Homo sapiens: one gene and its partner. The protein of the gene in region 2 purifies or fractionates together with the protein of the main gene of each other region. This does not show direct contact. Each region holds a gene or a part of one and is shown on either strand. Other genes may lie near its edges.

What was found. Proteins that work in one complex are often made in the same cells at the same time.
Region 1: the proteins of CDK11A (region 2) and ZNF267 purify together in Homo sapiens (affinity purification with mass spectrometry; one large-scale study listed by BioGRID and IntAct). This does not show direct contact.

Annotation. Positions count from the first base shown.
Region 1 is NC_000016.10:31,910,753-31,915,537, reverse strand, and holds part of ZNF267 (zinc finger protein 267), read right to left. Parts: intron 1,063-4,785; coding exon 1-1,062. UniProt on the Homo sapiens protein: May be involved in transcriptional regulation.
Region 2 is NC_000001.11:1,710,145-1,715,404, forward strand, and holds part of CDK11A (cyclin-dependent kinase 11A), read right to left. Parts: intron 2,284-5,260; coding exon of another isoform or gene 2,257-2,283; coding exon 2,120-2,256; intron 1-2,119. UniProt on the Homo sapiens protein: Appears to play multiple roles in cell cycle progression, cytokinesis and apoptosis. The p110 isoforms have been suggested to be involved in pre-mRNA splicing, potentially by phosphorylating the splicing protein SFRS7.

The DNA of each region.
Region 1 (4,785 bases), on a different chromosome or scaffold from region 2:
GAATTCGCTTATGTTTAGTAAGGTATGAACTACAGCGAAAGGCTTTGCCACATTCTTTACATTTGTATGGTTTCTCTCCAGTGTGAATTCTCTGATGCACAATAAGATTGGAGGAACGAGTAAAAGATTTGCTACATGCTTTACATTTGTAAAGGTTTTCTCCAGTATCAATTTGCTGCTGTTTAGTAAGGTATAAACTACAGTTAAGGTTAAAGACCTTGCCACATTCTTTCCATTTACAGGGTTTCTCTTCGGTAGGAATGATCTGATGTTGAGTAAGGTGCAAACTATGGTTTAAGCTATCCCCACATTTTTCACATTTGTATGGTTTCTCTTCATTATGGATTATCTGCTTTCTAAGATTTGATGACTGACTAAGATCTTTATCATATTTGTTATAGCTATATGAGTTTTCTCTGATATGGATGGTCTGATGTTGAATATGTTTTAATGACTGGGTACAAACTTCTACACATTTATTACATTTGTAAGACTGTTCTTGTTTCTCTTGCCCATGCATACTCTGAAGAAAGACTTCCTCAAATTCTTTACATTTGTATTGTTTTTCTAGAAAATAATTTTCCTGATGATTTTTAGGGCTTGAGCTTTGGTTCAAGGTTTTTTCAGAATTATTGCAATGATAATTTTTCTCTCCAATAAAAACATTTCGGTAACTATTTAGAGTAGAGACCTGCCTAAATAACACTGAAGTTTTATCATATATGTGATGTTTTCCCCAAATATCTATTTCCTCTTGTTGATTAAGCAATGATGAATGAGTAAAGACCTTCCTATATTGATCAAAGTTATAGCTTTTGGCACAAGAAGAAAGTATTTGCTGGTGAAACAAACTTTCAACAGAGGATTCATCAAATTGATCATATTTAAAAGTCTTTTCATCATAACATCCATTGTGCCCTTCACACTCCTCCCTTTTCCACCTTTTTCTTAAATGTAAATTCTCAAGATCACAGCTCCCATGTCTCCTCGATATCACTTTTTGGAATGAAGCTTCTGTGCAGTGCTCTGTCAACAGGTCCTTGTTATAATGCGAAAACACATCTGAAAGATATAAAAATTTTAAGAATTCCAATTACTATATTCAGGTACATATATTTTACAAATCTAATATACAAAATTATGCTAAGTTGAGAATACAACAACAGTTGAGTGAAAAACCTGAGGCCGTGTTTTCTCAATTGATATACAAACTTTACTACAATAAAGTGGCACGTGAACTACTAAGACACCAACAGTGAAGGAAAGGGAGTGCTTGTGCCACCTTGCCCTTGCCCCTCAGCAGCATCTGCATGGCGGGGAGAAATCTGTTCATTTGGGAGACGGAGAGCACAGTGACTAGGGGACTACAATGAACCCAGTGCTGCCCTATCACAGCAGAGACCTGGCAGGATTCATCACCTTCTGACTTAGGAGCTGCTGGTCTCTGAATAACCTACAGTGGTACCCCAATAACACATCATGAACATTGGACTCCGAGATGTGCTGGCTTCAGGTGTGACCCAGAACATTTCCCACTGTGGTGGGTATAGTGAAAGACACCTTCTGTTTGAGCAAAGCAGAGGAAAAAGTAAATGGGATTCTGTCTTGCACCTGAGGTACCAGCTTGGCCACAGTGGGGTAGAGCACCAAGCAGACTCTTAGGGTCCCTGAGTCAGCATTTCTGGACCTGCCCTGCACCAAAGAGTAAGTCCCAGTTGTGGAAGCAGTCATCATAAGCTGACTGAAGAGTGCTTGGGTGTTGAGTGAACATCAGTGATAGCCCAGTGGAAACCCCTGTGGGCTGGTGGTGGTGGCAGACACATTGTGAGGCTCCTCTGCCTGCAGAAAGGGGAGGGAGGAGTGGTAAGGATGTTGTCTTGTAATTTGAATGCCAGCTTAGCTGCAGTAGAATAGAACACGAGATAAATAAGGCTTCTGACTTCAATACCTGGCTCCCACACAATATCTCTGAACCTACCTGGGGCCAAAGGGAACTCACTGCCCTGAGGAGACACAAACCTGGCTGGTTACCACCTGCTGATTGTAGAGGCCTAAGGTCTTGAGTAAACTTAGGTGGTAGCCAGGCAGTAATTACACTGGGCCTTGGGTGACACCCAGTGCTGTGCTCACTTCAAGTCTAAATTAGCACAGTCCCAGTGGTGGGGGCAACAGGGAAGCTTATGTCATCCCACCCCAGCTCCAGGTAGCTCAGCATAGAGAAAGAAATTCCATTCGTCTGGAAGAAACTAAGGGAAGAGAACAAGAGTCTCTGCTTGGTAATCCAGATAATTCATCGATTTTAACCAAGACCAACCACATGGTACCTCTATGAGTCTGCAAGAACAACGTTATTGAGTTTGAGATCCAAGTACCTTCAAATTCTGGAAAGCCTTCCCAACAAGGGTGGACACAAAGCCCAGACTGCGAAGGCTACAATAAATGCCTAACTCTTCAATGCCAAGACACAGATGAACATCTACACATTAAGACCATCCAGTAAAATATGGCCTCACCTAACAAACTGAATAAGGCATAAGAGGCCAATCCTGGAGAAACAAAATAAGTAACTTTTCAGACAGATGATTCAACATAGTTGTGTTGAGGAAACAAATTCAAGATAAAATAGAGAAGGAATTCAGATTCTATCAGATAAATCAAACAAAGAGGTTGAAATAATTAAAAGGAATCAAGCAGAAATTGAAGTTAAAAAAGCAATTGGCATACTGAAGAATGCATCAGTCTCTTAATAGCAAAACTGATCAGGCAAAAGAAAAAATTATTGAGCTTGAACATAGGCAATTTGAAAATATGTAGAGAAGACAAAAAAGAATGAAGTATGCCTACAAGATTTAGAAAACACCCTGAAAAGGGCAAATCTAAGAGTTGTTAGCCTTAAAGAGAGAAAGAGACAGGGGTAGAAAGTTTCAAGAATACGATCAGAGAACTTCCCAAATCTATAAAGATATCAATATCCAAGTACAACCAGGTTACAGAACACAAAGCAGATTGAACCCAAAGACGACTACCTCAAGACATTTAATAATCAAACTCCCAAAAATTAAGAATAAAGGATCCTAAAAGCAGCAAGAAAAAAGAAACAGCATACAATGAAACTCCAGTACGTCTGGCAGCAGATTTTCAGTGGAAATCTTACAGGCCAGGAGAGAATAGCATGACATATTTAAAGTGCTGAAGTAGCAAAGCTTTTACACTAGAATAGTCTATCCCGTGAAAATATTCCATAGCCATGAAGGAGAAAAAAATGACCTTCCCAGACAAACACTGAGAGATTTCATTAAAACCAGACCTGTCCTACAAGTAATACTAAGGGGCATTCTCTTCCATCTGTAAGAAAAGAATGTTAATGAACAATAAGAAGTCATCTGAAGGTACAGAACTCATTGGTAATAGCACAGAGAAAAACTGAGTATTATAATATGGTAACTGTGGTGTGTAAAATACTCAAGTAGAAATACTCAATGATGACTCAATACAACTACAACAATGTTTCAAGACAAAGACAGTACAATAAGACATAAAGAGAACCAACAAAAAGTTGAAAAATGGGGAAGCAAAGTTAAAGGTAGAGTTTTTACTAGTTTTCTTATTGCTTATTTGTTCACTTAGGCAATCAGTGTGAAGTTGTCAGCAGTTAAAACAATAGGTTATAAGATAGTATTTGTAAGTTTCATGGTAACCTCAAATAAAAAAACATACAACAGACACAGAAACCAAAAAGCAAGAAATTAAATCATACCACCAAGAAAAATCATGTTCACTAAAATGAAGACAGAAAGGAAGGACAAAAGAAAGAGAAGATGCAAAAACAAATAACAAAATGGCAGGAGTGAACACATACTTATCAATAATAATGCTGAATGGAAATGCACTAAACACTCCAATTAGATGACATAGAATGGGTGAAAAAAAGAAAAAGGAAGACCCAATTATCTGCTGCCCACAAGAAATACACTTCATCTATAAAGATACACATAGACTGAAAAATAAAAGAATGGAAAAATGTTCCATGCCAATGAAAACAAAAAAAAAGAACCAAAGTAGCTATACTTACATCAGATAAAATATATTTCAAGATAAAAACTGTGAAGACAGAACAAATGTCATTTTATGATAAAGGGATCAATTCAGTCAGAGAATATAACAATTTTAAATATCCATGCACCCTACACTAAAGCACTGAGACATAGAGTATTAGAGCTAAAGAGAGAGGCCCCAATACAATAATAATTGAGACTTCAACACACCACTTTCAGCATTGTACAGATCTTACAGATAGAAAATCATGAAAGAAACATCAGACTTAATCTGTGCTATAAACCAAATATACCTAATAAATATTTGCAGAACATTTTATCTAATGGCTACAGAACACACATTCTTCTCAGCACATAGATAATTTTCAGATACACAACATTTTAGGTTACAAAACAAGTCTTAAAACATTCAGAAAAGTGAAATAATATCAAACATCTCTGCCCACAATGGAATATAACTAGAAATCAGTAACAAGAATTTTGGAAACTATACAAACAAATGTAAATTAAACAATACGCTCCTCAATGAAAATTGGATCAGTAAAGAAATTAAGAACGAAATTGAAAAATTTCTTCAAACAAATAATGAAAAAACACATACCAAAACCTATGGGATACAGCAAAAGCAGTACTGAGAAATGTATAGATATATGTGCTTACATCAAAAAAGAAAAAAATCATATAACCTAATGTTGGATCTTAAAGAAAAAACAGCAAAACAAAAATTATA
Region 2 (5,260 bases):
GCCGGACCCAGGTGGGCAGACGGACACACACACCCGAGGTCAGTGTGATGACTGCGTGTCCCACCCCAGAGGCATGAAGAGGCAGCAGCCACGGCCACCCCCAAGCTGAAGGTACTTCCAGGGCATGAGCACCACGTCCCCCGTTGCCCCCTTCATTTCTCTCTATTCCCCCTTTAGGAGGCAGACACTTCAGGACAAGAACATTAAAAACATCTGTATTGACGGGAACGTTAAAAAGTGGCTGCACGTGACCAGGAAAAGGCTCAGGCTCAGAAAAGACCCGTGAAGACCCTGAGTTTCCACAACAGGCCGACCCCACAGACACAGCCCAGCACAACCAAAACAACAAGTGCACACCCTTGAGTGGGGACCAGGAAGAATCACATCATGAGAATCAAATGTCCATTTTTTTGACTAAGAAAAACACAAGAGAAACAAAGAAACAGGACAGTATGTCCCATTCAGAGGGGAAAAAAAGAAGCCAACAGACACGGTTCCTGAAAATCACCTGACGGTAGATGTCCCAGACAAAGATTTTAGGGAACTGTCTTAAACCTTCAGTTCCTCAGAGAACGAAAGGAAGATGTGGAGAAAGTCAAGAAAATGACGCGTGAACACGACGGAAATATCAACAGAGACAGAAGATCCAACAAGAAACCAGAGAGAAATTCCAGAGCTAATAAGTACATGCTCACAATAGACACTAAAAAGTAAATATTCACAACAGAAACTCACAGGCAGATGTGAGCAGGCAGAAGAAATAATCGGTGAGCCTGAAGACAATAAAATCACATCGTCTGAGGAAAAGAAAGCAGAAGAGACTGAAGAAAAGGGAGCAGTGCTGAGCGGCCTCGGGGACCCCAACAGATCTGTGGGAGCCCAGGAGGGAGGAGAGGAGCAGAGAGGGTATCTGAAGAATTCCTCAAAACCCCCACATTGGATGAAAACCGTAAATATAAACATTAGAGAGGCTCAGTGAACTCCAGGTAGAATGAAGTCAAGAGGCCCACAGGAAAACCCATTATTAAACAGTTGAAAGCCTAAGGCAAAGAGAATCTTCAAAGCATCCAAGGGATCCTCAATTAGGTCATCAGATTAAAGCATCCAAGGGATCCTCTATAAGATCATCAGATTTCTCATCAGAAACTTTGGAGGCCAGAAGACAATGGGCTGAAATAGTCCAAGTGAAAAGGAAAAACTGTCAGCTAGGCATGAGGGTTCCTTGAGCCCAGGAATTCAAGACCAGCCTGGGCAATACAGGGACACCTTGTTTCTACTGAAAAATGAGCCAGGTGTGGTGGCACACGCTACGCCTGTAGGTCCCAGCTACGCGGGAGGCTGAGGTGGGAAGATCACTTGTGCCCAGGAGTTCGAGGTTGCAGTGAGCTATGATCGCTCCACTGCACTCCAGCCTGGGCAACAGAAGAAGACTCTGTCTCAAAACAACAACAACAAAATTGTCAACCAAGAACCACGTATCCAGCAAACTTTCCTTCAAAGATGAGGGAGAAATGAGGATATTCTCAGATAAACAAAAGCAGAGGGAGTTCATTACTACTAGACCTAGACCTGCCTTGAAGAATAAGCTCCAGGGAGTTGTGTGGGGTGTAAGGAAAGGACGCGAGACAGAAACCGGAAGCTGGGTGAAGAAATAAAGATCTCCATTAAGGTGAGGACGTGGGTGACTATAAAAGCTCGTACTGGCCGGCCGCGGTGGCTCACGCCTGTAATCGCAGCACTGTGGGAGGCCGAGGTGGGTGGATCACGAGGCCAAGAGATCAAGAGACTATTCTGGCTAACACGGTGAAACCCTGTCTCTACTAAAAATATAAAAAAATAGCTGAACATGGTGGCGGGTGCCTGTAATCCCTGCTACTCCGGAGGCTGAGGCAGGAGGATCACTTGAACCCGGGGGGCAGAGGGTGCAGTGAGCCGAGATCGCGCCACCGCACTCCAGCCTGGGGGACAAGAGCAAAACTCTGCCTCCAAAAAAAAAAAAAAAGGCAGGGGCGAAAAGCAAGCACCGGAACCAAGCGCCCGCCTGTGACAGCAAGTGCCCAGCACCAGGGGGCAGCAGACACGCGTCCCGCCGAGCACAGCTGCCCACCGCGCCGCCTACCTTCCCTGCGGGCCTCCCGCTCCTTGCGCCGCTCCTCCGCCCGCCGCTCGCGCTCCTTCTGCTCCCGCTGCTCCTTCTGCTGCTCCCGCATCTTGCGCTCCCGCTCCCGCTTCCTTTCTAACTGCTCCAAGCGGTCCCTGAAGAGGCACACGCCATCATTCCCCCTAAACAGAAGCTTGCTTATCGCGTTTTTGTCCACATTTGTAAGCTGGCTTTCTACGTAATTCAATCCGTGAAGTTTTTTTTTCATTTTTTTATTTTATTTTCTTTGAGACGGAGTCTTCATCTGTCCCCCAGGCTGGAGTGCGGTGGCGCGATCTCGGCTCACTGCAACCTCCGCCTCCCGGGTTCGAGCGATTCTCCTGCCTCAGCCTCCCGAGTAGCTGGGATTACAGGCGTGCGCCCTGTACTCCCAGCTAATTTTTGTATTTTTAGTAGAGACGAGGGTTTCACCATGTTAGCCAGGATGGTCTCAATCTCCTGACCTCGTGATCCGCCTGCCTCCGCTTTTCAAAGTGCTGGGTTTACAGGCCCGAGCCACCGTGCCCAGCTGCCATTTCCAATTCTAATTAATAAATGATCCATTTCTTTCCATTCGATCGGTGTTTGCTTCATGGATTTTGGGCTCTGTGGTTAGATGCATTCACATGTATCATTGCTGTATCTTCCTGCTGTATTGGCCTGTTTCTGGCTGTGAAGTCCTTGCTCCTTCTTGTTTCTAGCTTTTTTTTTTTTTTTGAGACAGGGTCTTGGTTTGTCACCCAGGCTGGAGTGCAGTGGCGCAATCTCGGCTCACTGCAACCTCCATCTCACGAGTTCAAGTGATTCTCATACCTGAGCCTCCCGAGTAGCTGGGATTACAGGTGTGCACCACCACACCCAGGTGATTTTTGTATTTTTACTAGAGACAGGGTTTCACCATGTTGGCCAGGCTGGTTTCTAATATTTCTTAACATCTGTTTTGTCTGGTATGAGTACAGCCATTCAAGCTCTCCTATGACAGCTGATGTTTGTACGCTGCGTCTTTTCCTGTTCTCTAGCAGACAGCATACAGTTAGATCTTGTTTTTCTATCTGATAATCTGCCCTGTCTGTTTGGGGCACAGAGACCTTTCACATGTCATATAATTACACGTACAGTTGGATTTACTTTCCTTGCTTTGTTGTGTCTTTTTTATTCTTCCCTTTTTGATTTTAAATTACATACGTTTAGCATACCATTTTAATTTATTTGTACTTTTTAGAACACTAAGAAAACAACTTTCTTAGTGGTTGCTCTAGGGATCACCATATGCCTCATGATACTAGCTCAAGTCCAGTACAATATAAAACTGTTGTAACACAGCTTCATTCCCTGTCTTCTTTGTGCAGTCCATTTATGCCACATACCACGACAACAGTGTAATTATTTTACACAATCGTAGTTCCAGTAAAACCTAAGATGTGAGGAGAGATATTTACAGGATATTGACGTCAACCTACACTTGCTATCTGCAGTGCCTGTCCTTCCTTCCTGAGGATTCAAGTTACCGTCTGGTGTCATTTCTATTCAACTTGAAGGTCTTCCTTTAGTATTTCCTTTAAGGCAGGTTTCGCCAACAATGAATCCCACCAGTCTCTGCTTCTCAGGGAATGTCGTTCGTTCCCTTTCACTTGTGTAGAACAGTTTTGATTCCTGGCTGATGGTTCTTCTCTCTAAGCAGCTTGAGTATGCCACTCCACTGCCTTCTGGCCTCCATTGTTTCTAAGAAGTCAGTGGCTGGCGGTATTGAAGCTCCCCTTTCATGGGATGGGTCATTCTTCTCTGAGCCCTTTCAACATTTTCTCTTTGGCCTTTGCCAGTTTGACTATGATGTGACTTTGCATTTATTCTAGTTCAAACTTCCTGTGCTCTTGAATGTGCATATTTTTTAATTAAAATTTGGAAAGTTTTTAACCATTATTGTAACAAATATCTTTCCTCTCTCCTGGAACCCCCATTCGACGTGCTTTGGTACAGCAGATGTTGTACCACGGGTTTCTGAGGCTCTGTGCATTTTTCTTGTTTTTTTCTCTCTGTTCTTCAGAATGGATAATTTCTACTGCTCCATCCACAAGTTGTTTCCAAGCCTTTACTAAATTCAACATCTGGACACTCAAGACAGTTTCTACTGATGATGTTCTTCCTCAGTACGGGTCACACTGTCATACTTCTTTGTATTTTAGATAATACATTTGTAGCAATTCTGGATTCTAAGTTTTCCCTTTCGTTGTTACCACCAAGGCCTGTCTGGTTGTCCGTGAAATCCATCTCCCTCATAGCTCATGGCCACCCCGTTCCTTCCCACATGCCTATTTTAATTTTCAACCTTGGCTTCCTAGGGGTCACCACCATGGCTGCACAGCTTAGCAATTAGCCAGCACTGGAAAAAGGCTGGGCTCAAATACCTCGAGCACAGTAAGGCTTCCTTGGCCCACGGCTGTGTGTGGACAGGGAGCACACTGAACGTTCAGGCGTCATTCGCATCTGTGGCGGCTTCTATTTTCTGCTAGGTCCTTTCACGCAGCTGCATCCTCAGGGCTGGTCACAAGTGGGTGGCGGCTCGAGCTCTCTCCAGTCTCTGCTGCACGTCTTTGGCGGGATCACAGCTGCTCCCAACCACACTGTACTTCATTCTAGCAGACCTCTTGGCCTTTTCCTCCCTCCACTGAGGATGCTGGTGGGCAAGGCCACTGCCCACTGCTCTAAACGGAGTAACCCCTTCCAAGGCAGCAAGGAAACTGCAGGTCCTGCAGCTGCCCTGTCCCAGTGGAACCTCCGTGCTTCCAAGTGCAGAGTGGAAGCAGTAAAGGGAGCAGCTCTCAGGCCAGAAGGTCAGATTCTTACTGCTTTTACCCACAGCTCAGCAGTTTTCCAAGCATCAGTGCTTCTCAGATTATCCTTATCAGTTTCCTTTTTGTCAGAGACAAGGTCTCTCTACGTTGCCCAGGCTGGCGTCATGCGGTCCTCTGGCCTTAGCCTCCCACGTAGCATATGCTACCACACCCAGTTCTGGATTGGCTGATCTGAATCGGCCCTACCCAGAAGTCTGCCCCCAACAATTTTTGTTCATTCACTCTCCTGTCTTTACCTTCTGGGAAATCAATATGACAGCCCAAATTT